Linked DNA regions of Homo sapiens. The protein of the gene in region 1 interacts with the protein of each later gene in a pairwise test. Each region holds a gene or a part of one and is shown in the gene's direction. Other genes may lie near its edges. The genes, in order: ZMYM6, BEND2, POU2F1 and CTCF.

Region 1 (7,583 bases):
CTTGATGGGAAAAGTTGTAACAACTTTATGGCCATATTTAACCTTCCACAGGTAACTACAAACATCTTAAAGTAAATATAATATTCAATAATTTTATGTTGAAAGCAACATAACAGGAAGATATAGATGCCCAATATCACCATTTCCATTCAACATATTACTACAGGTTTTAGCCACTGCAATAGGCAAGAAAAAGAAATAAGTTATATAATTGGAAAGAAATAAAATGGTCATTATTCTCTACATAGCTGGAAACAGAAAGTAAGAAAAATGGCTAGACTATTAGAATTAATTAGTTTAATTAATAATTCAGCAAGGGTGCTAGCTTCAAGACCAACATACAAAAATAATTGTATTTCTATATTTACACTGAAAACAATTAGAAAATAAAAATTTACATTTAAAATGACATGAAATATTAAATGCCTAGAATAAATCTAACAAAGAGGTGTGCAATATCTACACTTAAAAACTATAAAGCATCAAGATAAATTACAGACACCAAAATAAATGGAGGAATATATCATTTTTATGGATTGAAAGATTCAACCCCACAGAATGCTGTTATTAGTTTCCTAAGGCTGCTTTAATAAAGTACCACAAACTAGGTTTAAAAAAAACAAACAGAATTTATATCACCATTCTTGGGGCTAGAAGTCTAAAATTAAAGATCGGTAGGGTCATGCTTTCTCTGAAACCTATATGGGAGAATCTTTCCTTGCCTCTCTTAGCTTTTGGTGTTATCAACAATCCTTAGCATTCCTTGGCTTGCAACTGCAGTACTTCAATCTCTGTTTCCATCATCGCATGGGGTTCTCCTCCAATGTGTATGTCTTCATATCTTCTCCTCTCTTAAGGACACCAGTCATAATGGATGAAGCGCCCACCTTCCTTCAGTGTGGCCTCATCTTAACTAATTACATCTGCAACAATCCTATATGACTAAATAAGGTCCCATTCTAAGGGTTAGGACTTCAACATATCTTTTTAGGTGACACAATTCAACATAATGAATAACAAATACCAATTCTCCAAAACAGGCATACCACTTCAGTATAATACTAAACAAAATCCCAATGGATTCTAAAATTTGTAAGGAAAGTTTTGTCACAACTGACAAGCTGATTCAAAAATTTACATGAAGATGCAAAGGACCAAGGAAAGCCAAGATAATCTTGAAGGACATAATAGGAGGGAGGACTTTTTCTATCATATACTAAGATTTATTATAAAGCTATTACAGAAATTAAGACAGTATGGTATTTCCACAAGGAGAAACAAAAGGAACAGCCTTCATAGTCCTGAAATAAACCCACACATATATAGACAACTGATACATGACAAAGGTGTCAATGCAGAACAGTGGGGAAAAGGACAGTCTTTTTAAAAAATAGTGCTTAATCCATGCAAAATTCACATGGAAAGGTTGAAATCTGACTTACCTTACACTATACACATAACCCAACCACAGATGGATTATAAAACTAAATGTGAAAGACTAATAACACTTCTAGAAATTTTCTTCATTTGGTAGGAAAATATTTCTTAAGAGAATACAATAAGCACTAAGCACAAAGGGTTTTTTTGTTGTTGTTGTTTGTTTGTTTTTTGGATGGAGTCTTGCTCTGTCACCCAGGCTGGAGTGCAGTGGCATGACCTCAGCTCATTGCAACCTTCGCTTCCTGGTTCACGTGATTCTCCTGCTTCAGCCTCCCGAGCAGCTGGGACTATAAGTGCACACCACCATACCCGGCTAATTTTTTTTTTTTTTCCTGAGGCAGAGTCTTGCTCTGCCACCCAGGCTGCAGTGCAGTGGTGCGATCTTGGCTCACTGCAACCCCTGCCTCTGGGGTTCAAGTGATTCCCCTGCCTCAGCCTCCCTAGTAGCTAGGATTACAGGTGCCCACCATGCCCAGCTAATTTTTGTATTTTTAGTAGAGACAGGGTTTCCTCATGTTGGCCAGGCTGGTCTCAAACCCCTGGCCTCAAGAGTTCCGCCCGCCTCAGCCTCCCAAAGTGCTGCTATTATAGGCATGAGCCACTGTACCCGGCCACAAAGGTCTTTTAAGTTCATCAAAAGACACCAATAACAGAGTGAAAAGGCAAGCTACCGAGTGGGAGAAGATATTTGCAATATATACAGTAGTCCCTCCCTTATCCATGAGGATATGTTCGAAGATGTTCCACAGATGCCTGAAACCTCCAGTAGTATCAAACCCTATATATGCTATGTTTTTTCCTATACATACATACCTATGATAAAGTTTAATTTATAAATCAGGCACAGAAAGAGACTAACAACTAACAATAGAACAATTATAACAATAGACTTTAATGAAAGTTGTTTAAAACTTATGAATTATTTGTTACTGGAATTTTCCATTTAATATTTTCAGACCGTGGTTGAGTGTGGGTAACTACGACTTCAGAAAGCAAAACCGTGGATGAGGGGGGCTAGTGTATATTCAAAAAAGACTTATCTTAGTGTATTCCTGATTGCCAAAAGAAAATGCCACAGACTGTGTAATTTATAAATAGTAGAAATTTATTTCTCACAGTTCTGGAGGTTGGCAAGTCCAAGATCAAGGCACTGGCAGATTTGTTGTCTTGGAATTACTCTCTAATTCCAAGATGAAACTTTGTTGTTGTCCTCTTGCTGGGAGGAACATTGTTATCATACAGTGAGGGGTTAAAAGGGCAAAAGGAATGAATCTTTGTGAAGGGCATGAATGCCCTCTTTTGTAAGGGCATGAATCCCATTCATGAGGATGGAGTCCTCATAGCCTAACCCCTCCCAAAGGCTCCACTTCTTATACCATCGCCTTAATGTTTAAGTTCCAATATATGAATTTTGAAGGGACACATACATTCAAACCATAGCAGGATTCATATCTAAAATATATGCCCATAAGAAAATGTCAATCCAATACAAAAATGAGCAAGAGACTTGAACAGGCACTTATGGGGGATATCCAGATACCCAAGGAACAAGAAAATGGGCTCATCCTCATTAATAATCTGGGAAATGCAAATTAAAACCACAGTGAGATACCACTATGCCCCCATCAGAATGGTTATAATTAAAAAGATATGCAGCAGTAATTATTGGCAAGGATGTTGGGAAACTGAAACTCTCATACATGGCTGAAGGGAGTATAAACTGAAACCACCATTTTCTAAAATTGCCTGAGATTATCTACCTAAATTTTACATATACATAACAAGCAATTTCACTTTTAGGTATGAACCCAACAGAAATGTGTGCATATGTATCACTGTTAAATAAAACTTGTAGGCCATTGTTTCGGGCTAAGCTCCTGCAGTAGGTCTCAATGAACCAGACTAAAAATCAAAATGGAGTCACTCACACTGAGGTTCCATGTCATCAAATGGAAACTACGTTGTTATTTGAAGTTCTGAAAAGTCAGGAAAAAGAGATAATAAGAGTCTAATTTCCCCTGAGTGCCAGTTTCAATTAGCATAATAATGAAATTTCTTCTGCTTTAATCGTTACCAAAAAAAGATAAACTGAAGTTACCTGATGTTAACCAATCAGTTATTTCTCTATTGTTTTGTTTCTTGGTTCTGCTTTACAAGGAAATTAACTTATTTATTTATTTTTTGGAAAGTTACTTTGAAATGAACCAATCTGTTTTTTGTTCTTTACTTCTGCTTTCTCCAGCCCTTCTCTGTCTATAAAACCTACCTCTTCTGCTCAGCTCATTGGAACACTTGTTCTATTTTATGGAATGAAGTGCTGCCAGATTCTAGAATCACAAATAAAGCTAATTGAGATATTTAAATTAAATTTGTTGTAATTTTGTCTTTTAACATCACCAATGACAAGAATGTTCACAGAAGCATTATTCCTAATAGCCACAAATTGGAAACAACTCAAATGTCCATCAGTAGTAGATGATTAAAATTGTATCATATTCATAAAATAGAATACTATACAGCAGTCAAAATGAATGAACAGTCACAAATCATACACGTATCTGTGAAACAATGTTGAATTAAAAAAACCAAATCTCAATTTTGAGCAAGTTTTTTCATTTATATCTCAAGAGATTAAAAAATTATACCTCTTAGGGTTAAATGGTGAGGATTAAGTGGGATGGTGCATGTGAAGTGCTCAGCAAGCCAAGTATTATTTAATATCATGCTCTCTCAGTAGGCCACCTTTCAGGAAATGGGCACTAAAGGATGCTACAGATTAGCTAGGTGTGGTGGCACGTGCCTGTAAGCCCAGCTACTCGGGAGGCTGAGGCAGGAGAATCGCTTCAACCCAGGAGGCGGAGGTTGCAGTTAGCCGAGATTGTGCCACTGCACCCCAGCCTGGGCAACACAGTGATACTCTGTCTCCAAAAAAAAAAAAAAAAAAAAAAAAAAAAAAAAAAAAAAAAAAGAATGCTATAGAGCACTTACAGCGCCTTCTAACGCCATCTCCACCTTTTCACTATTGAGCCTCGGTCTCTTTAAGAAGTGAACCATAATTGAGGAAAGAGGAATGCTGGGAAGTTCTACTCAGCTCAGGTCCGGAGCCTGACGGGAAAAGAGGGCGGAGACCAAGGCTGCGCAGGCGTGGTTGGCCGGTCGTTGCGTTGGGATGGATCAGGCGGAATTCCAGAAGAGAAAATAATCCCTGTCTAGATGCAGAGGACTTGGTTCCTATTCCAGTGCTCCTCCGGTAGCAGGGAGGCGACAGAAGGTGGGTGCGGCCGCAGTGGTAGTGGGCGGGACGGCGGGGCGGAGGCCACACCACGTGACGAGGCGTTGCGGCGGGGGCGGTGCCAGGTGGGCTACGCGGCTGGGGCGGCTGCGGATATCGCCTTAGGGACGCGTTGACATTCACTGGCTAGTCCACCGCTCTCAGTCGGAGACCACATTGCCTCGTTAGTCCTCAATGATGGGAGTGGGAATTCTTGGTGGGAAGGAGAATTTCGGAAAGCGTGCGGTTCTCAGAGGAGGGATGAGCGCCCGTAGATATTTTGTGGCGAGTGCGCAAAAGTTCTCATTTCTTCTTTGGAACAGGCTTTTCAACCAGTTGTCCGTTTCCATCCCGGACTATTCGGATAAAGACAACTTTGAAGAGCTTTTTGTTTTAGGTTTAATTCGTCCCGTTTAGTTCTTTGACTTTTAGGGGAAGGGAATTTACTGAATGGCCAATTGAGTTTCTTTTCTACAGGAAGGCGATTGTGAAGCGGGGCTCTGAGGGGCTTGATGCCCCCCACCCCTCACACGGAGACCTTGAAAGAGGCAGGTGACTCACTTTCAGTAAGGGCGTTCCTGTTGTTCGCCTGCGATGGATGGCATCTTGAGCTCACATCTAGCGTTAGGCCGAGAAATGGGGCCCTTAGGGAGGCTTCCAGTGAAGGTTGAGTTATAGGTCAGGGCCGGGAGGTTGTTGTGCCCCTCTTTGAGAAATAAAAGCCGACGTGGGCCTCTAAGTACTGATTCTTATGGGGTCAGAAACTATTTCTTGAGTCCGTTCTTCTCAGAGTTTATTACTTCCTCCCACGTCTTGGTCTGCTGGTCTAATTCCCTTCAATAACCTTCAACATAGGAAAAAACCAGAGTGTGTTGTGTGTCTTTAAAGATATTAGAGAAGTGGGAGCTGTTGCCCCAAAACTGTTTTCTTATGTAGCTACTGAAGGAACAGAAAGCAGGAAGAAAGAAAAAAGTTAGTTGTGGCCCCAGAAGAGTTGTTTTTCAAATGCCGAGCCGTGAAGCCTCATGCACTCAACACAAAGTTTTTCTTTCATATAGATAAGCCTGAAGAAAAAAGAATAAGCCTGAGTATGTATTTTAGGTGTCCAACTATCCATTACCAAGAAGAAATCTATTCGTTTGAGCCTGAGACACTCTTTGAGGTAAAAAATTAGAATGAAAGAACCTTTGGATGGTGAATGTGGCAAAGCAGTGGTACCACAGCAGGAGCTTCTGGACAAAATTAAAGAAGAACCAGACAATGCTCAAGTAAGCATTTCATCTTCATTTAAAAATTTAAAAAAATTCCTTCTTTTCCATCTGGTCAACTGAAAAATTTTAGTTAAACGGCTTCTGGTTTGTAAGTTTAAAATAACCCAAACTGAGACAGGCTCTCGCTGTCGCTGAGGGTGTAGTGCAGTGGTGCGATCTCCTTAGCTCACTGCAGCCTCCACCTCCCAGGCTCAAGTGATCTTCCCACCTCAGCCTCCTGTGTAGCTGGGACCACAGGGCACACACCAACATGCTCAACTATTTTTTTGTATTTTTGGTAGAGACGGGGTTTGGCCATGTTTCCCAGGCTGGTCTCAAACTCCTGAGCTCAAGCAATCCACCCACCTTGGCCTCCCAAAGTTCTGGGATTACAGGCATGAGCCACCATTCCTGGCTGGTTTTTTGCTCTTTGAATGAAAGCTATAACTACATGATTTTTTTGTGTGTGGAAGGAAAGTAATATATTTACCATTTTTCCATACTTGTCACTTAAAAAAAATTCTCTTGTATCTGGTAGTACTTTCCTTTATTCTGTTAAGAATTTGTGGTCTGTGCTAGTCTCTGGGGATCCAGGATTGAGCAAAGTCAGCTTAGTCCCTTCCCTTGTAGAGCTTATATGTTAGTAGAGGAGGCAGAGATTACAAAAGTATTGGTCAAGTAATATATATAATTACAAACTATGACAAGTACTCTGGAAGAAAAGCCTAAAATGGGGAATCTGACCTAGTTTTGGTTGTGGTCTGCCTGGGGATGGCTAGGGAAGGCCTCTCTAAGGGAAGGATGTGTAAGCTGAATTATGAAGAATGAATTGATTAGGCAAAGGGTATGGAGAAGAGTATTACAGACAGAGGGAACTGTGAATAGGAAAGCCCTGAGTTGGAAAGATGCATGGTTCTTTTTAAGACCTGCAGGAACAGTGAGCCTGGAACAGAAAAGGTATGAAAATGGTGATGATGATAATGATTAAAACAACAACAATAAAAATAGCTGGCATTAGTATATCAGTATGTAGTATATATTATATCATAATCATATGTGACATTATTAACTTAATATTTATATATGCTTAAGAGTGTGTCAGGCACCATTCTTACCACCATATTATTATCCCCATTTTACAGATGAGGAAACCAAAGCTCAAAAAAGCCAAATAGTTTACCACAGATCACAGTTAGTAGTAAATGACAAAGACTGGATTCAAATCCAGGTGGTCAGACTCCAGAACTTGTGCTATTCTGCTTCTCTATGATAAGGCTGTATATATAGTTTAAGGCTGGATTATGTAGGACGTAGCAGACCTTGTTATAAATTTTGGTTTTTATCCTAAGAGCAGTAGATAGCCATTATAGGGTTTTTTGTTTTTGTTTTGAGATGGAGTTTTGCTGCAATGTTGTAATCTTGGTGGCTCACTGCAACTTTCACATCCCGGGTTCAAGTGATTCTCCTGCCTCAGCCTCCCCAGTAGCTGGGATTATAGGCGCCTGCCACCACGCCTGGCTAATTTTTTGTATTTTTAGTAGAGACGGGGTTTCACCATGTTGGCTAGGCTGGTTTCAAACTCCTGACCTCAGGTGATCCACCCACCTCAGCCTCCCAAAGTG
Region 2 (7,036 bases), on another chromosome or scaffold:
AAGGCAGGAAACCCATGCCTGGGCCAGCCCTGCTGTAACATCTCTTGAGTCAGCAGCATGTCATGAACTGCAGGAAGCAGACCTCAGTGAGAGTTTATCATATCCCAGAATTGTCTCCTCAAGTTCATTACAGCAGTATGTCGCACAAGGTGGCTCATTTCCTTGTTTCGGTATGCCATGGAACTTTATCAGTGGAGGTGCTGAAAGTACCAATGCTGTCATCTCATTTGCCAATGCTACTACAGCAGTACCTATGGCAGTTCTGTCACGAAGAGAATCCAGTCTGGCAAATAACCCTGGTGTGGTGAATTACTCTGCTCTACCAGAAAATGAAAATGTGGGCCCAGGTAGAGCCTTGTCATCTTTCTGCTTCCATCCCAATTTGGGTGAGTTTGAAATGACACATATTACAGATAGCATTCTTCAATCTAGATTTTAAAACACCCTTCATGCAAATTAGTGTTAGTTATTTTTTAAATTAAAAGTTTTATCTTGAAGCCATTATAGATTCATATGTAGTTGTAAGAAATAATACAGAGAGATACCCTTTCCCCAATTTTCCCCAGTGGTAACATCTCATAAGACTGTAGTTTGTATTCATTTGTGTGTCTGACTTTCGGCTTTTTTTTTTAAAACAATTTTATCAGATGAGAAAGTTTGTATGTTCCTACCATAGTCAAGATACAGAACCGTTCTATCACCAGAAAGTTTGCTTGTCTTGCCTTTCTATAACCAAACCCATCCTCCTTTTCCTTCCCCCACTTACCTATTCCTAACCTTTGGCAAGTGTGATCTCTTCTCCATCTCTATAATTTTGTCACTTCAATATTGTTATATAATTGGATGCATATAGTATGTAACCTTTTGGTACTGGCTTTTTTTTACTCAACATAATCCCCTGGAGACTCAACCAAGTTGTGTGTTTCAGTAGTTCCTTTATTGCCAAGTACTATTCCATGGTATAGGTGTGCCATGGTTTAACCATTCATCTATTGAAGGAAATTATTTTTCCAGTTTTTGACTATTAGTAGTAAGGCTGCTATGAAAATTCATATACAAGTTTTTGTGTAAATGGAAGTTTTCATTTCTCTGACATGATTACCCAAGAGTGCAACTGCTGGTTATATATTAATTGCATGTTTAGGTTTTTTTAAAAAAACAAATCTTTATTGAGATATTAATGTCTTGGTCTGTTTGTGTTACTATAACAAAATACCATAGACTGGGTGATTGAAAAAGAACAGAAATGTAGTTTCTCACAGCTCCAGAGGCTGGGAAGTTCAAAAGCAAGGTGCCAGCCGGTTTGTGTGGTGAGGGCTGCATCCTCTGCAAGAGAGGAGCACTGTGTCCTCACATGGCAGAAGGTAGAAGGACAAGATTTCAAAATGCCGTGTGAAGCCTCTTTTATAAGGGCCTCCATCCCATTCATGAGGGAGGAGCCCTCATAGCTTAATCATCTTAAAGGTCCCATTTCTTAATACGATCACATTGGCAACACCTGAATTTTGGAAAGGATACCTTCAAACCATAGTAATTGATAAGTAAAAAACTGCACATATTTATTATACCCAATGTAATGAGTTTGGACATATGCATGTTTAGTTTTATGAGAAACTGCCTAACTATTTTCCAGGGGCGCTGTATCATCTGACATTCTTGCCAGCTATATATGGGTGATCTACTTTCTCTAAATGCATATTTCTGCTCTTTCTTTTGTTCTTTCTTCCTGATGCTCCAAGATTCCTTCTTTCATCATCTTCTTTTTTTGATTGAGGAGTTTTCTTTAACCTTTCTTTAAGGGTAAGTCTGCTGGGGACAAATTCTTTTTGTTTTCCTTTGTGTGTGAATGTCTGTTTCTCTTTCTTTCTTGAAGGATAATTTTGCTTTGTATAGAATTTGTGGGTGAAGTTCTTGTATTACAGCTCTTGAAAACTTTTTATTTACAGAAATGCCAGAAAGACCAGCAAACAGCAGTAAAAACAGCACTGAGACAGCGAATTATCCAACTTTAATGGGAAATTACAATGGCCAAAATACTGCCTCTTTATCTGTCTTCATCCCTCCCTATTTTGGTGAGTTTGAAATGATACATAATGCTGGGCGTGGTGGCTCACACTTGTAATCCCAGCACTTTGGGAGGGTGAGGCGGGTGCATCACCTGACATCAGAAGTTTGAGACCAGCCTGACCAACATGGTGAAAACCCGTCTCTACTAAAAATACAAAAAATTAGCCGGGTGTGGTGGCGGGCACCTGTAATCCCAGCTACTCCGGAGGCCGAGGCAGGAGAATCACTTGAACCCAGAGGCAGAGGTTGCAGTGAGCTGGGATCATGCCACTTAACTCCAGCCTGGGCAACAAGAGCGAAACTCCATCTCAAAATAAATAAATACATAAATACATAAAAAAGAAATGATACATATTGCAAATAGCATTATTTAACCTTGATCCACCAGTTTTTTTTTTTTTGTTTTTTTTTTTTTTTTTTTTTGAGATGGAGTTTTGCTCTTGTTGCCCAGGCTGGAGTACAATGGTGCGATCTCGGCTCACTGCAACCTCCGCCTCCTGGGTTCAAGTGATTCTCCTACCTCAGCCTCCCAAGTAGCTGGGATTATAGGCATGCACCACCACGCCTGGCTAATTTTTTTGTATTTTTAGTAGAGACGAGGTTTCTCCATGTTGGTCAGGCTGGTCTCCAACTCTCAACCTCGGGTGATCTGTCCGCCTCTGCCTCCCAAAGTGCTGGGATTATAGGCGTGAGCCACTGCGCCCAGCCTGATTCACCAGTATTTTTAATGTCAGCTAGTGTGACTCTTTTCAAACTAAACTTTTCGGTTTGAGATAATTTTAGATTCACACACAGTTGTAAGAAATAATGCAGAGAACTGTTTATGCTTTAGCCATTTCCCCCAAAGGATGACATCTTTAAAACTATAGTAAAATATCACATCCAAGGTAGTGGCATTGATACACTCCACAGATCTTACTGAGATGTTCCCAGGTTTACTTGTAATTAATTTGTGTGTGTGTATTTAGTTCTTTGCAGTTTTATCACAAGTAGTTTTAATGTCTACCTCCAGTGAAGACATAGAACGTTTCTATCACTGCAATGATGCCTCATCTTGCCCTTTGATAATCACATTCACTTTCCTCATGTCATCCTTTCCTTCCAACCTGCCCCATCCCTAACACCTGGTAACTACTGATCTGTTCTCTGTTTATAATTTTGTCACTTCAAGAATGTTATATTAAGGGAATGTTACAGTATGTAATTTTGGGGTATTGGTGTTTTTCACTCAGTATAGTTATCTGAAAACTCACCCAGCTTGTTGCATGTATCAAGAGTTCCCTCCTTTCTTTTCTTCTTTTTTTTTTTTTTTTTTTTGAGACAGAGTCTTACTCTGTTGCCCAGGCTGGAATGCAGTGGCGCGATCTTGGCTTACTGCAACTTCTGCCTCCCGGGTTCAAGCAATTCTCATGCCTCAGCCTCCTGAATAGCTAGGATTACAAGTGTGTGCCACCACGCCCAGCTAATTTTTGTATTTTTGGTAGAGACAGGGTTTCACCATGTTGGCCAGGCTGGTCTCAAACTCCTGACCTCAGGTGGCCTGCCTGCCACGGCCTCCCAAAGTGCTGAGACTACAGGCATGAGCCACCACACCCAGCCTACCCTCCTTTTTATTTTTGATTTATATTTCATAGTATGGCTATGCCACAGTTTGTTTAGCCATTCACCCATTGAAAAGGCATCAAATTGTTTTTTTTTCCAGTTTTTGGATATTAGGAGTGAAGCCACTATGAACAGTCATGAACAGGTTTTTCTGTAAATATAAGTTTTCATTTCTCTGTCATGAATGCCAAGAGTGTAATTGCTGAGCCTTATGGTACTAGCATGTTTAGTTTTATAAGAAACTGCCAAATAGTTTTCCAGAGAGTCTGTATTATCTTCCATTTCCACCAGCAATGCATGAGTGATCCAGTTTCTCCACATTCATATTTCTGTTATTTCTATTGTTCTTCCTTCTGGATGCTCTATATTTTCTTTTTTCATCCATTCCTTTCTGTTTGAATACTTTTCTTCAGCCTTTCTTTCAGGTTTCTTTAGTGTTCCTGCATGTGAAAATGTCTTTATTTTCCTTATGTTCTTCAAGGAACATAGTTTTGCTGGGCATAGAATTTGTGGCTGAGAGTTTATTTTCCATCAATATCCTGAATGCAAGTCAGTGGTAGCTCTTTAAAAACAAAAAAAAAAACTAGGCTTTTTATTTTGAGATAATTTTGAATTCACATGTAATTGTAAGAAATTGTACAGAGATCCCATTTATACTTTACCCATTTTCCTCAATGATAACATCTTAAAGAACTATATCCTGCATCCAGGATATTGGCATTGATTAAATCCACATCTCTGTGTGTGTATTTAGTTCTATGAAATTTAATCATGAGTCAGTTTACATGTCCACTATTAGTTACAATACAGAACATTTCCATCATCACTACAAAGATCCTTCATATTGTTCTTTTAAAACCATAGCCACCTCCCCCAATCTCCCTTGCCTCTCATCTTGCCCTGTCTTAACTACTGATAGTCAGCAATCTCACTTTGTTTGCCAGAATTTCATTATTTGAGTATCATTACTTAAATGCAACTAAATGCTGTGTAACCTTTTTATTTATTTATTATTATTATACTTTAAGTTTTAGGGTACATGTGCACAATGTGCAGGTTAGTTACATATGTATACATGTGCCATGCTGGTGTGCTGCACCCATTAACTCGTCATTTAGCATTAGGTATATCTCCTGATGCTATCCCTCCCCCCTCCCCCCACCCCACAACAGTCCCCAGAGTGTGATGTTCCCCTTCCTGTGTCCATGTGTTCTCATTGTTCAATTCCCATCTATGAGTGAGAACATCCGGCGTTTGGTTTTTTGTCCTTGTGATAGTTTACTGAGAATGATGATTTCCAATTTCATCCATGTCCCTACAAAGGACATGAACTCATCATTTTTTATGGCTGCATAGTATTCCATGGTGTATATGTGCCACATTTTCTTAATCCAGTCTATCATTGTTGGACATTTGGGTTGGTTCCAAGTCTTTGCTATTGTGAATAGTGCCACGATAAACATAAGTGTGCATGTGTCTTTATAGCAGCATGATTTATAGTCCTTTGGGTATATACCCAGTAATGGGATGGCTGGGTCAAATGGTATTTCTAGTTCTAAATCCCTGAGGAATCGCCACCCTGACTTCCACAAGGGTTGAACTAGTTTCCAGTCCCACCACCAGTGTAAAAGTGTTTATTTCTCCACATCCTCTCCAGCACCTGTTGTTTCCTGACTTTTTAATGATTGCCATTCTAACTGGTGTGAGATGGTATCTCATTGTGGTTTTGATTTGCATTTCTCTGATGGCCAGTGATGATGAGCATTTTTTCATGTTGTCTGTTGGCTGCATAAATGTCTTCTTTTGAGAAGTGTCTGTTCATATCCTTTGCCTACTTTTTGATGGGGTTGTTTGTTTTTTTCTTGTAAATTTGTTTGAGTTCATTGTAGATTCTGGATATTAGCCCTTTGTCAGATGAGTAGGTTGCGAAAATTTTCTCCCATTCTGTAGGTTGCCTGTTCACTCTGATGGTAGTTTCTTTTGCTGTGCAGAAGCTCTTTAGTTTGATTAGATCCCATTTGTCAATTTTGTCTTTTGTTGCCATTGCTTTTGGTGTTTTAGACATGAAGTCCTTGCCCATGCCTATGTCCTGAATGGTAATGCCTAGGTTTTCTTCTAGGGTTTTTATGGTTTTAGGTCTAACGTTTAAGTCTTTACGCCATCTTGAATTAATTTTTGTATAAGGTGTAAGGAAGGGATCCAGTTTCAGCTTTCTACATATGGCTAGCCAGTTTTCCCAGCACCATTTGTTAAATAGGGAATCCTTTCCCCATTTCTTGTTTTTGTCAGGGGTTTCTGCTTTTGCTTCTATCTCATGAGAGTTATTCACTATCACAAGAATAGCATGGGAAAGACTGGCCCCCATGATTCAGTTACCTCCCCCTAGGTCCCTCCCACAACATGCGGGAATTCTGGGAGATACAATTCAAGTTGAGATTTGGGTGGGGACACAGCCAAACCATATCATTACTCAAGGAGAATTTCACTATGTATAAATTCACGGTTGAGAGTTCTTAAGCACTTGAAAAATGTTCTTTCTGTACGTATGCCGAGAATTGCAGAAACCAGGCTGGAAAACAACCCTCAGACAATGAATTACCCAATTTCTTCGGGAAATGGCAGCGGCCCATGTTCTTCCTCTTCATCTGCCGGCCTCACACCTAATTTTGGTGAATTTCAGATGCTGTATTACAAGTGACACTATTGAATCCGGATCGATCAACATCCTTAATGCAAGCTAGTAGTAGCTCGTTTTTGAAATTAAACTTTTATTTTTATTTTTTTGAGGCGGAGTCTCACTCTGTCACCCAGGCTGGAGTGCAGTGGTGTGGTCTTGGCTCACTGCAACCTCTGCCTCCTGGGTTCAAGAGATTCTCCTGCCTCAGCCTCCCAAGTAGCTGGAACTATAGGGCATGCCACCATGCCTGGCTAATTTTTGTATTTTTAGTAGGGACGGGGTTTCACCATGTTGGCCAGGCTGGTCTCAAACGCCTGACCTTAGGTGATCTACCCTCCTTGGCCTCCCAAAGTGCTGGGATTATAGGCGTGAGCCACCGTGCCCAGCCATTTTTATTTTGAAATAATTTTAGATTCACATGTATTTGTAAGAAATAATAGAAATGATCCCCTTTATGCTTTACCCTTTTCTACCAGCAATATCATCTTACAAAACTATAGTAAATTAACACAACCAGGATATTGACATTGATACAATACACAGATATAACTGAGATAGCCCCAGTTTTACTTATAATAATCTGTGGGTGTATCTGTATTTCTTTCTGTGCAAGTTTTCTTCCACGAATAGGTTTGATTCTCACCACCACAGTCAAGACATAGAACATTTCCATCACCACCAGGCTGCCTC
Region 3 (7,036 bases), about 130 Mb from region 1:
GTTTTTGCACCCGATTCCCAAGATGTGGTCAAACTGATGATGTCATTGGACAGAGGACAAGGTGCAGTTAATTTGATTTATTGTCCTGAGGTGAAGTGTAGCAGTGAAGCCTTCTCATAGGGAAACCATTTATTTCGGGTCAATTTCCTTTATAGCTGCAATTTAATCACTACTGAGGCCGTAGATATTTTATACAAAATGATAAAATGTACATTGGATTTTACAAGCAAAATTTCGCTGTTACAGTTTTTGTAATACAGAAAAGGATGGATGTTGTTAACTGGCCTTATATTTTGGTTCACTTTTAATGCTATTGTAAAAATTCATTTCCTCAAAATTCTCAAATGGAGTATTTGGGTTTTAGATAGATAGTCATAGAAGTGACCCATATAAATGTTTGTTGTGATCCCCCAGACTTTTATAAGAAACTGTGTTTCTTAATCAGAGCATGGCTTAGGCTAATGGAGAGACCATTTGCCTTAGAATCCATTTCAGTGAATAAAGCAGAGTTGAGAATGAGGGCTGTGTATTCTTTAAGGTGGAAATGATAATGTTGAAAATAAGGTAGAATACTCACAGGAAAGCATGTGCTTTTAAAACAGATTTTTTAAAAAAAATTCAGAATTCTTTTTGGATTTATCTTAGTCTGGACAAGTTTGTTCATTTTGTTTTGATTAGTGATTTTAAAATTGTTCCATTGCAACAGTGATTGCACTTAGAATTTTTGACATATTAATAGATTTTCTTGTAAGACATTTCTCATATTTTTAATTATTAGTTTATTTTAAGGTGATGATTAAAATTCCCTGAGAATGTGATAAAATTGCTTTATTTCTAACCTGAATTTGTGATCCAATTTTGATAGAGTATTTTAGGTTACTTTTGAACCCACATGAGTTTATAACCTGCCTGTCTCCTTTTGCATCTGTCAAGTAGTTTCCTGCGTATTTCTAGGAAATCCATTGTCACTGTCTTCTTTTTTTTTTTTTTTTTTTTCCAGACAGAGTCTTGCTCTGTCTCCCAGGCTGGAGTGCGTTGGTGCGATCTCGGCTCACTGCAACCTCTGCCTCGTGGGTTCCAGTGATTCTCCTGCCTCAGCCTCCTTAGTAGCTGGGACTACAGGCATGCGCCATGACGCCCGGCTAATTTTTGTATTTTTTGTAGAGGCGGGGTTTCACCGTGTTGGCCAGGCTGGTCTCGAACTCCTGACCTCAAGGGATCCACCCGCCTCGGCTTTCCAAAGTGCTGGATTACAGGCGTGAGCCACCATGCCCAGCCCGTTGTCACTTTCTTAACTCTCCCACCTATTAATTACAATGATACTTTTGAATCAAGGTCTTGAAAATTCATGTGACAGCTGACCAACTGTTTTTGATTTCTAAAGGACTGTTCTGCTTCCAAACCATTACCGTAAAAGCAATTTTTAACCTCTTCCCTCAAATTAGTTTGTAATTCCTTTCATTTTGTCATTGTCAAAAATCCCAGTAGACAAGGAAAAAACAAACCGTAGCTATTATTCAGGTTCAAATGAATTCAGGTGTAGTGTTCTGCCATATTTTAAATTTACTATTCTCTACATCAATAGGTAGTATAAAGCAGTGTAAATAAAATATGTTTCATTGCTGCCTAGTTTGAAGTAATTGTCAATCTGCCATTCATCTGGTTAGTGGATTTTGCAATAAGTTCAGGGCTCAAAATGTTACGTTGCTCTTCTCAAGCCACCAAAGATGTTTAATAGACCCTTGAATATCTTAGGCAGGTGGTTCTGAAATAACAGAAGTGGAAATTTGAATGTTATCTTTAAGTATTTTCTATTAAAAATTGAAATATTTGACCTGCTTCTTGAATCTGTATTGCTTCATCTTGAATTTATTTGTGTTTTTTAAGTTGGTCACTCATTTTCATGAATGTTTCCTTTGTACTTGGAAGACTGTAATATTATGTAGTAGTGATTGCCTTGTTGTTATCGGTTATTTTTGTTTTGTTTTTTAATTTTGAAACCCCATAGTTGTAATCTTTGCATATTAGTCTTTCAAGCACCATTAAAAATAATGTTGTGTGACTCATTAATTTGCCTTTATATAATTGTGTTAATTACACAGTTTTTGTGATTAGTAAAGACTTGCTATGAAGCCTGATTTTAAGCAGGAATGTGTTTTTCCTAATGAAAGTGATTGCATTTGAATTTAGAACTATTCAGGTAATTTGCGTTTAGGGAACAGACCAAGTCACAAACAAAACATGCCCCCTTTTGGTTATCCATGTTCTTGTTTCTGATCCCTCCTTAAATGCTAAATGCCTGAGCAAATGTACTTACTATTTCTTGGGCGTTAGAGTTGAAAGTTGTTGATTTGATTCAGTGACATATCTGCTTTGAATTTCTGTACCCTTTCTGCATGAATTTTTTCCTTTTCCTTTTTTTGGGGTAACTTTGAGTCACCATTTTGCTTACTTCTTACTGTGTTGCTTAAAGGATGTAAATATCCTTTTGAGTGGTTGAAAGGGATAATAATTAAGGTTCACAGAGAATAGCAGTTTCCTTATGCATCTTTCGCTGGACATTTTTGTGCATTATTGACATTTCATAAGTAAAGAGAATTGAATAACTGTAGATTTTAATTCTTCTTAGGAATAAATTGGTTTGTTTTGTACCGAAGTATTTCTGTGTTCTAAACAGGTGATGAGCTCTTATAAACTGTTTCAGCAGTAATAACAATGGAAACAAAAATAGCCTGAGTAGAGCTATTGCCTGACTTACTTGATCCGTTTACAGTATGTTTAGAATTTGGAATATGAGAATTGTCTTGAGTTTCAGAAGTTCTGATTTGAAGATGCTCCTTGCATACAGTGCATGTGGTTATGGGGTTCTGTGTGTTTTTACTATGGGGTGTGAATTTTTTGAGCATTGGTATCTTTGTATACTCAGTGACTAATAGAGCTCTTTTGTTTTTGGGTTTTATTTATTTATTTATTTATTTCCAATTAAGCAAGCACTCAAGATTTCAGTGTTGCCTACATTTGCTGACAGGACTAGTAATTGAGCAAAAGAAGAATCAGCAAACCTCTAGATTTATCAGATTATCTTTTATTCATTTATTTTCTCTTATTTTTAATTTTTTTTAAGAGATGGGGTCTTGCTATGTTGCCTAGGCTAGTCTAAAACTCCTGGGCTTAAGCAGTCCTACTGTGGCCTCCCCAAGTGCTGGGACTACAGGCATGAGCTACCACACCTGGCCCAGATTTCTTTTAAACTGCTGGAACTCCTGGACATTTATCCGGAGAGGATACATTATACTAACTTTTTTTTAACAGCCAATGTTCACATTCCACAAAGCTAAGTGTTTGTAGTAGCTTTACTAAGTCTTCAATATTGAAAGTCATAGCAAGTGCAGTTTATCACATTATTTATTTCATAATTCTTTGTAACTTTATGCTTTTTATGTTGGAATATAGAAATGGTATATGAAATTAAATCAATAATAATAATTATTATGGCAGGTTTCCCCCCCTCTGTTGAACTTTCTCTTTGCAATAGAAGATATAAACAGGAATGGCTGGAAAATGAACAATATGCTGTGTGTTAAACGACTCATTTGTGCTTAAACATATGATTACCTTAATGGAGTTGCACTGATACCTTAAAGGGAATATATTTTTATATGGAAAAGTGACTTAGGTGTTTTCTTGTTTTAGTACACTTATTTTAGTGGTCTGCTTAATGAAAAATACAGCCTTTTTTGGCTGATTCATACTGCAGCAAGCAATATTATAATTAATGTTTTAAAGTAGTTACCATCCTAGTCTATAAAAGGTATCTGCTATGTACCTGGTCCTATGCCTGTAGTCTTTGGGAATAACAAGGAAATATGACTGCTGCGGAGGAGTTGGTATGTTTACTTAAGCAGGAAAAATTGAAAAACAGTGTATATAATTACATATTAAAATATGTAACAGATAATGAAGATTGGAGAATAGATCAGAGTGTGTCCAAGTTTGAAAGAGCCAGAGCATCCTAGAATATATTATAGCTGGAAGGTAATTTAGATATAATCTTTGCTAAAGGTTTTGCTTCACAGATGAGGAAATATTTTCACAATGGTTTAGTGACTTGCTCACAGTCACTTAACTATTCAGTAACAGATAAGAACACAAGACTTCTAACTTTCTCCCACCTCCCAGTCTCTCCTCCTGCCCCATTGCTGTCAGTCAGAGAAGGCTTTATGTAGAAGGCGAGACTTTTAAACCGAGCTTTAAAGGGCAAAAAGAATTTAGAGGAATGGGAATACAGAGAAGGCCATTGAAGGGGAGATTGTGTTCAACATTGTGATGTATAGGTAAAGAATGAGGAAGCATTTGTTCTATCTGCAGGAAAGCTGTTGGAGGATTTTGAAATAGGGACTGATGTGATAAAAATGGTGTGTTAGGAGTAATGTGGTGTGCAGGATGGTTTGAAATAGGAAGGGAGAGATTAGATCCATAGAAACCAGTGTATAGAGGTATTTGGTTTATTAACTAATTACTGTAGGTGCTACTAGAGATACAAACATAATTTAAAAATTACTTGACCTCAAGAGACTTCCAGTCTAATTTATGAAATAGATAAGTCGTGATAAAGGTGTTGAGGATATTGTCCAATTACATTACATGGAATAAGGACGTTTGGGAGAAATTCTTACCTGGCCTTTACAGTAGAAACTATTTGTTTTTAGTCTTATGGACACTGAATTGTCTAATTGACTTAGTTTCCTTTTCAAATCAAACTACAGTTTGATTTGGTCAAATTTAGGTCAGATTATTAACCTGAGAAGCACATGCATAGGCAATTACGTTTGCATTTCTTAGCCTGATTAGTAGATCAATTTTTTGTCCATGCATTTGTTTTGTATTTCTTGTATTGCTTCCATCTTTAAACTCTTTTTATCTTGTTTTATGTGGGCCACCTTACATCCTTTCTGGAGCAAGGCAGGTATAAATAATATTACCATAACCATGGCACAGTGATAATGTCTGTATTTTTATAGTACTTTAAAATTTATAGCCACATTCTCATTTTCATTACCTCAGTTAGTCCTTTCAGGCAAGCGTTACTATACCCATTTTATAGTCGAGTAAAATAAAACTTAGATTAAGTGACTTTCTCAAGGTCCTGTGTTTTTATAAGCATTAAGTGTGGGTAATAGCAAGACTTCCAGCTTAGTTGTTATTTAGGCTGTGTATTAAGGCACTTTGGGGCTCTATTGTGGAGAGCTCTGAATCCTTTGTGTTGGTGTAAGAGTTTGGATTTTATTTGCTAGGCAGTAGGAAGTCACTGAATTTTTTTTTTTTAATTTTTTTTTGTTATGGACAGTGCCATGATCAGAGCCCTTAAAGTTTAGCAGCTAATTAGATGCAAAGAGATTATCAAGGTTTTGAGTTTAGGTTATCCAGAAAAGAGCATTACCATAAGCAGATGTAGGGATGTTGGGAAAAGGAGCCATTTGGGGAGTAAGTCAGTGAATTCACTTTGACATGTCATTTGAGACATGTTTGGGTGGGTCTTATTGGGTTGTAGATTCCTTGTGAAAATTGAAAATTTTTTAGTGAATTAAATGTTTGATAAACATTAATACTAGGGTTGAAATTTATGCTCATGCCACTGTGCGTGTGGACTGAGTATTGAATCTGAACGTTGTAAATTCTAGATATCTCATTTTGGCTTTGGCACTGTCTTCTAAGGTTATTTCCTTCAACAATACGATGGTGATAATACCAGTGTTAGAGGGATGCTGTGGGGAGTATCAAATTGATAGCAGAAGCATTTTTAAAGTAACTCTGTAATAGTTTTTCTTACATGAGCACAGGAGTAAAATCAGGAATTTTATTACTTGTGCTGCTGTAGAGAAGCAGAAGCTTTAGCAGCCGATGGATTCTGTGGGGCACCTGACTGTAGGTTGTTCATTTTTTGGTGCAGCCAGCATCTTAGGAGGAATGGACACTCCTAATACTCTTCTGAAAACTTTATACAGTGGAGGTGTTGCATTGTAGCAAATACAACTTACCTTGATTTCAGGGCATTCTGTTATCTAGCCCCTACCCTTGCCTATGCATTATTATCTTTACTACTTCCTTAAATAGCATGACTCAACAATTCCATCAAGGAAGTTCCCTTATTGTCCATTTCTACCACAAATACAGCATATTATCAGATTTTAATTTTTAAAGAAATTTCCCTAAAATTTGAAGATCTATCTTGGGAGGATGGCTATAATTTATCCTGAGACTTACCTGAGCCTTTCTCCCATTACCATCCTTGCAACACCAATCCCAGTTTGAGACACATGACCTGAATGTGTACCCAGTGTTTTGGTCAAGCCAGTGTGTTTGGGACGTTGTGTGAGAACCTTTACTCACACTTTTTCCTCCATTGGAAGGCCATGGTGTATGGTATGGTAGAGTGAAAAAAGGTACTGGGGGGTTCAGAGACCTGGCTTCTCTGTCACTAATTAGCTTAGTAACTTTAGGACAAGTTACTTCACCATGGATTTTTTTTTTAATTGCATTTGTAAAATAAGGGATTTCAAACTTTTAAAAGCCTTTGGTGTTCTTTTTTAAAGGCAAAAGTGGAGCTGTTCTGATTAAAATTGGATATTGGAGCAAGAAAAGCATTTTCCTCCTCCTTTCCACAGTAGCTTTTGAGGCACTTTCACAGGGTCCTTAGGACTTCTGCTGGTCATGACTTGAAAACTTTTGTCCTTATTTATCTTAAGGGACCTGTCTGTCCATTTCTTTATCTCCACAAATAGCCATCTGTCAAATCTGAGCTCCTGTCATACTTTCTCTGAAATTAGCACTTAATTTGTGTTCAGTTACCCAATTCAGCACTTCATTATACACAGTCCTATTTTCTTCTCTAATTGATTATGTAAGTAAATCTTGTCCTAAGAGCCTTGAGTGCAGGAACATACTGGTAGGGACAGAGTAGGCCTAGACATTTAACAAATAATGAATGCTTGGTTGATGGACTTAGTGGTTCTCAATCTTTGTCACCATGGGGTGA
Region 4 (7,000 bases), on another chromosome or scaffold:
CAGAAAATGTGGCCAAATTTCACTGTCCCCACTGTGACACAGTCATAGCCCGAAAAAGTGATTTGGGTAAGTAGATTAACTAGTGAGAAGTGAAAAAAATATTTTGAAGGATTTATATTTCGAAATATGGGGATCAAAAATAACTTCACCTTCTGACTCTCATAACATTTTATGTATAGGAATGGCCTGTCACTTAGTTTAGTAAAAGCCATTGCTTAGCTGCTTTTTTTTTTTTTTTTTTTCTATTTCTTCCTTTTCTTACTGTAGTCAGGCCACAAGATTCTGTCCTGAGTAAAACTCATCTATAAATTAATGGGAGCTGTGATGGGAGGAGACAGAGTACACCTTTAATTAGTAGCCTTCCTTCCCCAAATAGGAAAGTAACATAGTGTGATTCAAACTCAGGTCATTCTATTGTATTTTTTTGAGAACGTCTGTACTTTCTCTAGGTAATGGGACTGTTTTATTGGTTTAGTGGTAACTGTATTTCTGTGCATAGTTAAACTAGAGTTTACATGCAGCCGGAGTTTATTAATAATATTTAGTGTAGGCCGGGCGCGGCAGCTCACACCTGTAATCCCAGCACTTTGGGAGGCCAACGCGGGTGGATCACGAGGTCAGGCGATCGAGACCATTCTGGCTAACATGGTGAAACCCTGTCTCTACTAAAAATACAAAAAATTAACTGGGCATGGTGGTGGGCGCCTGTAGTCCCAGCTACTCGGGAGGCTGAGGCAGGAGAATGGCGTGAACCTGGGAGGTGGAGCTTGCAGTGAGCAGAGATCACGCCACCGCACTCCAGCCTGGGTGACAGAGCGCGACTCTGTCTCAAAAAAAAAAAAGGTAACGAGTAAAAAGTGAGAGCCATCCTCTCCCTTACCTCATATCTACTCCCAATAATTAGCTCTCTTTAAGTTTAGTGGGATATCACCTCAGTTGATACAACTTGTAGTACCGTAAATACATAAATTCATGATCCCAAATGTAGCTGGGCCCTCACTGCTCCTAGCTGTTCCAGCTGTTTGTTCTTGTCAGGTGTGCTCCAGTTCTTTATGAGTGAGCGAATTCATTCCACAGTGTTTGGTGCTTATATAGAGTTGGGCAACCTACTCTTACTTTTTTTTTTTTTTTTTTTGAGATGGAGTTTTCCTCTCGTCACCCAGGCTGGAGTATGATGGCATGAACTCAGCTCACTGCCACCTGTGCCTCCCAGGTTCAAGTGATTCTCCTGCCTCAGCCTCCTGAGTAGCTGAGATTATAGGCGCATACCACCATGCCCGGCTAAATTTTTTTTTTTTTTTTTTTTTGTATTTTTTAGTAGAGATGGGGTTTCACCATGTTGGCCAGGCTGGTCTTGAACTCCTGACCTCAGGTGATCTGCCTACCTCGGCCTCCCAAAGTGCTGGGATTACAGACATGAGCCACCGCGCCCAGCCCTCACTTGCTTTTTTTTGTGACAAAGTTTTGCACTTGTCACCCAGGCCAGAGTGCAGTGGCCTGATCTCTGTTCACTGCAACCTCCGCCTCCTGGGTTCAAGCTCTTCTCCTGCCTCAGCCTCCCAAGTGGCTGGGACTACAGGTGCCCGCCCATGGCTAATTTTTGTATTTTTAGTAGAGACAGGGTTTCACCATGTTGGCCAGGCTGCTCTCGAACTCCTGACCTCAAGTGATCTGCCCTCATTGGCCTCCCAAAGTGTTGGGATTACAGGCGAGAGCTGCTACACCAGATCCCCTACTCCTATTTTCTTATAACCTCTAATTTTCCTTCTTTTTTCTCTCCCCTCTTGGTCTCAGTAAATGACTTCTCTTCCTACTTAAAAAATAAAGACAAAGGGCCAGGCGCAGTGGCTCACGCCTGTAATCCCAGCACTTTGGGAGGCCAAGGTGGGTGGATCATTTGAGCTTAGGAGTTCCGGAGCAGCCTGGGCAACATGGCAAAACTCCATCTCTACCAAAAATACAAAACGGTTGTGGTGAGGTGCACCCTTGGTTCCAGCTACTCAGGAGGCTGTGGTGGGAGGATCACTTGAGCTTAAGAGGTAGAGGTTGCAACGAGCCGAGATCGTGCCACTGCACTCCAGCTTGGGTGACAGAGAGACCCCATCTCAAAAAAAAAAAAGAATCTTAGCCAGACACAGTGGCTCACACCTGTAGTTTCAGCTATTCAGGAGGATGGGCCAGGAGTTCTAGACCAACCTGTGTGATATAGCAAGACCCCGTCTCTTAAAATAAATAAAAATATAGCCGGGCACGGTGGCTCACGCCTCTAATCCCAGCACTTTGGGAGGCTGAGATGGGCGGATCACAAGGTCAGGAGATGAAGACCATCCTGGCTAACACAGTGAAACCCCATCTCTACTAAAAATACAAAAATTAGCCGGGTGTGGTGGCACATGCCTGTAGTCCCAGGTACTTGGGAGGCTGAGGCAGGAGAATTGCTTCAATCCGGGAGGGGGAGGTTGCAGTGAGCGGAGATCGCGCCACGGCACTCCAGCCTGGGCAAGAGAGTGAGACACTGTCTCAAAAAAAAAAAAAAAAATTATATATGTGTGTGTGTGTGTGTGTGTGTGTGTGTGTGTGTGTGTGTGTGTATGTGTGTGTATATATATGTGTGTGTGTGTATATATGTGTGTATATATATATGTATTCATATATATATGTATTTTTATATATATGTATGTCTTCACCCTCTAGGTTTAACTCTTCTCTCCTTCCCAGCCAGCCTTTATGAAGAGTTAACATCCCTCACAGTCTTCTCCCCCTCATCTTTCCCTCTTGTCTGGCTTATTCCCCATCACTCTGGTATAATGACTGTTGCTTAAGGTCATGAATGACCCCACTCTCTGAATGTAGTGAAGACTCCTTTCCACTCTTCTTCCTAAGAGATGACTTGATCTGTTAGCAGTGTTCTTCATCGTTGACAGTACCCTCTTCCTTTGAAACACTTTCTTCCCTTGGCCTCTGTGACACTAAATCCTGTTGGTTTTCTTCTTCCTCTTACTTCTTTAAACTTTCTCTTATTTTAACCTTTTTTTCTCTCACTGGCCTTAACTCCAAGGTTTTTGTTTTTGTTTTTGTTTTTTACTGGAGACTGTCTTGCTCTGTTGCCCAGGCTGGAGTTCGGTGGCTCAGTCTTGGCTCACTGCAGCATCGACCAGGCTCAAGGAATCCTCCCACCTCAGCCTCCCTGGTAGCTAGGACCACAGGCACATGCCACGATGACCAGCTAATTTTTTTTTTTAGCTTTTGGTAGAGACAGGGTTTCACTATGTTGCCCAGGCTGGTCTCGTACTCCTGGACTCAAGCAATCCACCCACCTCAGCCTCCCAATATGCTAGGATTACAGGTGTGAGCCACCACACCTGGCCCAACTCTGAGACTTCTTTGTGTGTATGTGTGCTTGTGTGCTTTGTGTGAGAGACGGAGTTTCACTCTGTCACCCAGGCTGGAGTAGAGTGGCGCGATCTCGGCTCACTGCAACCACCACTTCCCTGGTTTAAATGATTCTCCTTCCTCATTTTCCCGAGTAGCTGGGACCACAGGTGTACGCCACCATGCCTAGCTAATTTTTGTATTTTTCAGTAGAGACGGGTTTCACTATATGTTGGCCAGGCCAGGTCTCAAACTCCTGACCTCAGGTGATCCACCCACCTTTGCCTCCTAAAGTGCTGGGATTCTTTTTGAGATGGAGTCTTTGTCGCCCAGGCTAGAGTACAGTGCAGTAGCACAATCTTGGCTCACTGCAACCTCTGCCCCCCAGGTTCAAGCCATTTTCTTGCCTCAGCCTCCCGAGTAGCTGGGATTACAGGTTTACAGGCATACACCACCACGCCCAGCTAATTTTTGTACTTTTTAGTAGAGACAGAGTTTTGCCATGTTGGCCAGGCTGGTCTTGAACTCGTCACCTCAGGTGATCCACCTGCCATGGCCTCCCAAAGTGCTAGGATTACAGGCGTGAGCCACTGTGCCTGCCAACTCTTAGACTTCTCAAAGCATGACCCATTCTTTTTATTTTAATTCTACTTTTTGCCTTGGTGATCTTATCAGCTCCCATGGGCTCAAATTCTAACAACTCTTTGTGGCATTGGTGGTACAGTGATAAGCATAGCTGCTTTCAAATCCTAACAACTTGTACATTTATATTCCTACTCCAGATCTTTCTTTTGAGTTAGCCTTATATAACTGTGTATCCCTTGCCATCCCACCCCTGCTTTTATATCTCTGGCATTTCAAATTCAGCATGTCTAAAACTGAAGGTCTAAAACTTCTCTGTCCCCTATGCCCCCCCACCCCCCGACCCTGAAAATAACACATACAACTTGGTCTTAAGCCCTCTTCCACTATTCTTGTCTCAATAAATGACCCCAACAGCTACCTGGTTTTCCAGGCCTGATACCTACTTTATTCTTCACTCTCTACAGTCACTAAATCCTGTTGATTCAACTGCTTCCATCTCTCATCAGTTCTTCCCCTTCCATCCACACCCATTGTCATCACCCTTGTCCCAGCCACCATCTTCTCCCACCTATCCTGTTTGAACAATCTTAATTGTTCTCCCTGCACCTGTTACTCTGCCTTTTCATTCATTTTCTGTATAGCACCCAGAGTAATACTTAAGAATCAGGAGAAATGGGCTGGGCGCAGTGGCTCACACCTATAATTCCAGCATTTTGGGAGGCCGAGGCGGGCAGATCACGAGGTCAGGAGATTGAGACCATCCTGGCTAACATGATGAAACCCTGTCTCTACTAAAAATACAAAAATAAAAAATAAAAAAATTAGCCGGGCATGGTGGCGGGCGCCTGTAGTCCCAGCTACTCAGGAGGCTGAGGCGGGAGAATGGCATGAACCTGGGAAGTGGAGCTTGCAGTGAGCTGAGATTGCGCCACTGCACTCCAGCCTGGGTGACAGAGCAAGACTCCGTCTCAAAAAAAAAAAAAAAAAAAAAGAATCGAGAAATGTATTAGTAACTTGTTAAAATGCTTGTTTGTGTTTTCACATTACCCTGGGCTTTTTACTGTGCTTTCAGGTGTCCACTTGCGAAAGCAGCATTCCTATATTGAGCAAGGCAAGAAATGCCGTTACTGTGATGCTGTGTTTCATGAGCGCTATGCCCTCATCCAGCATCAGAAGTCACACAAGAATGAGAAGCGCTTTAAGTGTGACCAGTGTGATTACGCTTGTAGACAGGTAGGAACCTTCATTGAAAGTTGTTGGTGCTTTCTCGGTGTCTGGTGTTATCAGAGGGCATTTACATATCTAGTACAGTGGCTGTTTTTAAAGATAGTATTTTCAAACTGTGGATTATGAGGAATGTCACCAAAATCAAAGGTCATGCTCCTTGTCAATTGTGTCATCCCGGTGTCCAGATGATGTTTTATTCAGTCACAGCTTACCTCTTCCTTAAGCAGACATCTTTCTGAAAACTGTGGAAAGTAAGTCCAGGACTTGAGAGAGGGGAAGAATCTCATGCGGGGACATGACTGTTGGGAGGGAGCCAAAGAAGGAGCTCAGCAGGAATAAGCAGCTCTATCTGTGCTACAATTATGGAAGCAGTTGTGCACCACACTAAAAATACCTTTATCAAGCCGGGTGCAGTGGCTCACACCTGTAATCCTAGCACTTTGGGAGGCCGAGATAGGCAACAGAGAGAGACCCCATCTCTACAAAAAGAAAAAATTAGGGCCGGGCGCGGTGGCTCGAGCGCCTGTAATCCCAGCACTTTGGGAGGCTGAGGTGGGCGGATCACTTGAGGTCAGGAGCTTGAGAGCAGCCTGGCCAACACGGTGAAACCCCGCCTCTACTAAAAATACAAAAATTAGCCGGGCATGGTGATAGACGCCTGTAATCCCAGCTACTCTGGAAGCTGAGGCAGGAGAATCGCTTGAACCTGGGGCGGAGGTTGCATTGAGCCGCGATTGCGCCACTGCGCTCCAGCCTGGGTGGCAGAGCGAGACTCTGTCTCCAAAAGAAAAAGAAAAAATTAGCTGGGGCCAGGCACGGTGACTCACACCTGTAATCCCAGCACTTTGGGAAGCCAAGGCAGGCAGATCATTTGAGGTTGGGAGTTCAAGACCAGCCTGGCCAACCTGGTGAAATCCCATCTCTACTAAAAAAAAAAAACAAAAAAACACGAAGGTCGGCCGGGCGCGGTGGCTCACGCCTGTAATCCCAGCACTTTGGGAGGCCGAGGCAGGTGGATCACAAGGTCAGGAGATCAAGACCATCCTAGCTAACACAGTGAAACCCCGTCTGTACAAAAAATCAGCTGGGCGTGGTGGTGGGTGCCTGTAGTCCCAGCTACTCCGGAGGCTGAGGCAGGTGAATGGCATGAACCCAGTGAGCCGAGATTGCGCCACTGCACTCCAGCCTGGGCGACAGAGTGAGACTCCATCTCAAAAAAAAAAAAAAAAAAAAAAGTCAGCTGGGTGTGGTGGCAGGCACCTGTAATCGCAGCTACTCAAGAGGCTGAGGCAGGAGAATTGCTTGAATCCGGGAGGTGGAGGTTGCAGCGAGCCAAGATCGCGCCACTGCACTCCATCCTGGGCGATAGAGCGAGACTCCGTCTCAAAAAAAAAACAAAAAAAATTAGCCAGGCATGGTGGCTCATACCTATGGTCCCATTTTGAAGCTGCAGTAAGCCATGATCACACCACTGCTCTCCAGACTTTGCAACAGAGCAAGACCCTGTCTCTAAATATATAGCTTTATCATCTCAACAAGCCGTGTGGAGTCTAGACCTAGCTTGGGTGAGAAATACCTGTTGGCCACATGCATGCAGGTGGCAGCTGGGGCAGTAGCCCCATGAGCAGGCTCTGAGGCCTTTCCCCCTATGCCGTTTCAGGAGAGGCACATGATCATGCACAAGCGCACCCACACCGGGGAGAAGCCTTACGCCTGCAGCCACTGCGATAAGACCTTCCGCCAGAAGCAGCTTCTCGACATGCACTTCAAGCGCTATCACGACCCCAACTTCGTCCCTGCGGCTTTTGTCTGTTCT

What was found.
Region 2: the proteins of ZMYM6 (region 1) and BEND2 interact in binary tests that used the Homo sapiens proteins (3 or more experiments, as listed by UniProt).
Region 3: the proteins of ZMYM6 (region 1) and POU2F1 interact in binary tests that used the Homo sapiens proteins (3 or more experiments, as listed by UniProt).
Region 4: the proteins of ZMYM6 (region 1) and CTCF interact in binary tests that used the Homo sapiens proteins (3 or more experiments, as listed by UniProt).

What each region holds. Positions count from the first base shown.
Region 1 is NC_000001.11:35,028,943-35,036,525, reverse strand, and holds the start of ZMYM6 (zinc finger MYM-type protein 6), read left to right. Parts: upstream 1-4,580; 5' UTR 4,581-4,711; intron 4,712-5,812; 5' UTR 5,813-5,886; coding exon 5,887-5,979; intron 5,980-7,583. UniProt on the Homo sapiens protein: Plays a role in the regulation of cell morphology and cytoskeletal organization.
Region 2 is NC_000023.11:18,196,851-18,203,886, reverse strand, and holds part of BEND2 (BEN domain-containing protein 2), read left to right. Parts: coding exon 1-386; intron 387-1,946; coding exon 1,947-2,072; intron 2,073-7,036.
Region 3 is NC_000001.11:167,223,850-167,230,885, forward strand, and holds part of POU2F1 (POU domain, class 2, transcription factor 1), read left to right. Parts: intron 1-7,036. UniProt on the Homo sapiens protein: Transcription factor that binds to the octamer motif (5'-ATTTGCAT-3') and activates the promoters of the genes for some small nuclear RNAs (snRNA) and of genes such as those for histone H2B and immunoglobulins.
Region 4 is NC_000016.10:67,621,526-67,628,525, forward strand, and holds part of CTCF (transcriptional repressor CTCF), read left to right. Parts: coding exon 1-66; intron 67-5,029; coding exon 5,030-5,190; intron 5,191-6,844; coding exon 6,845-7,000.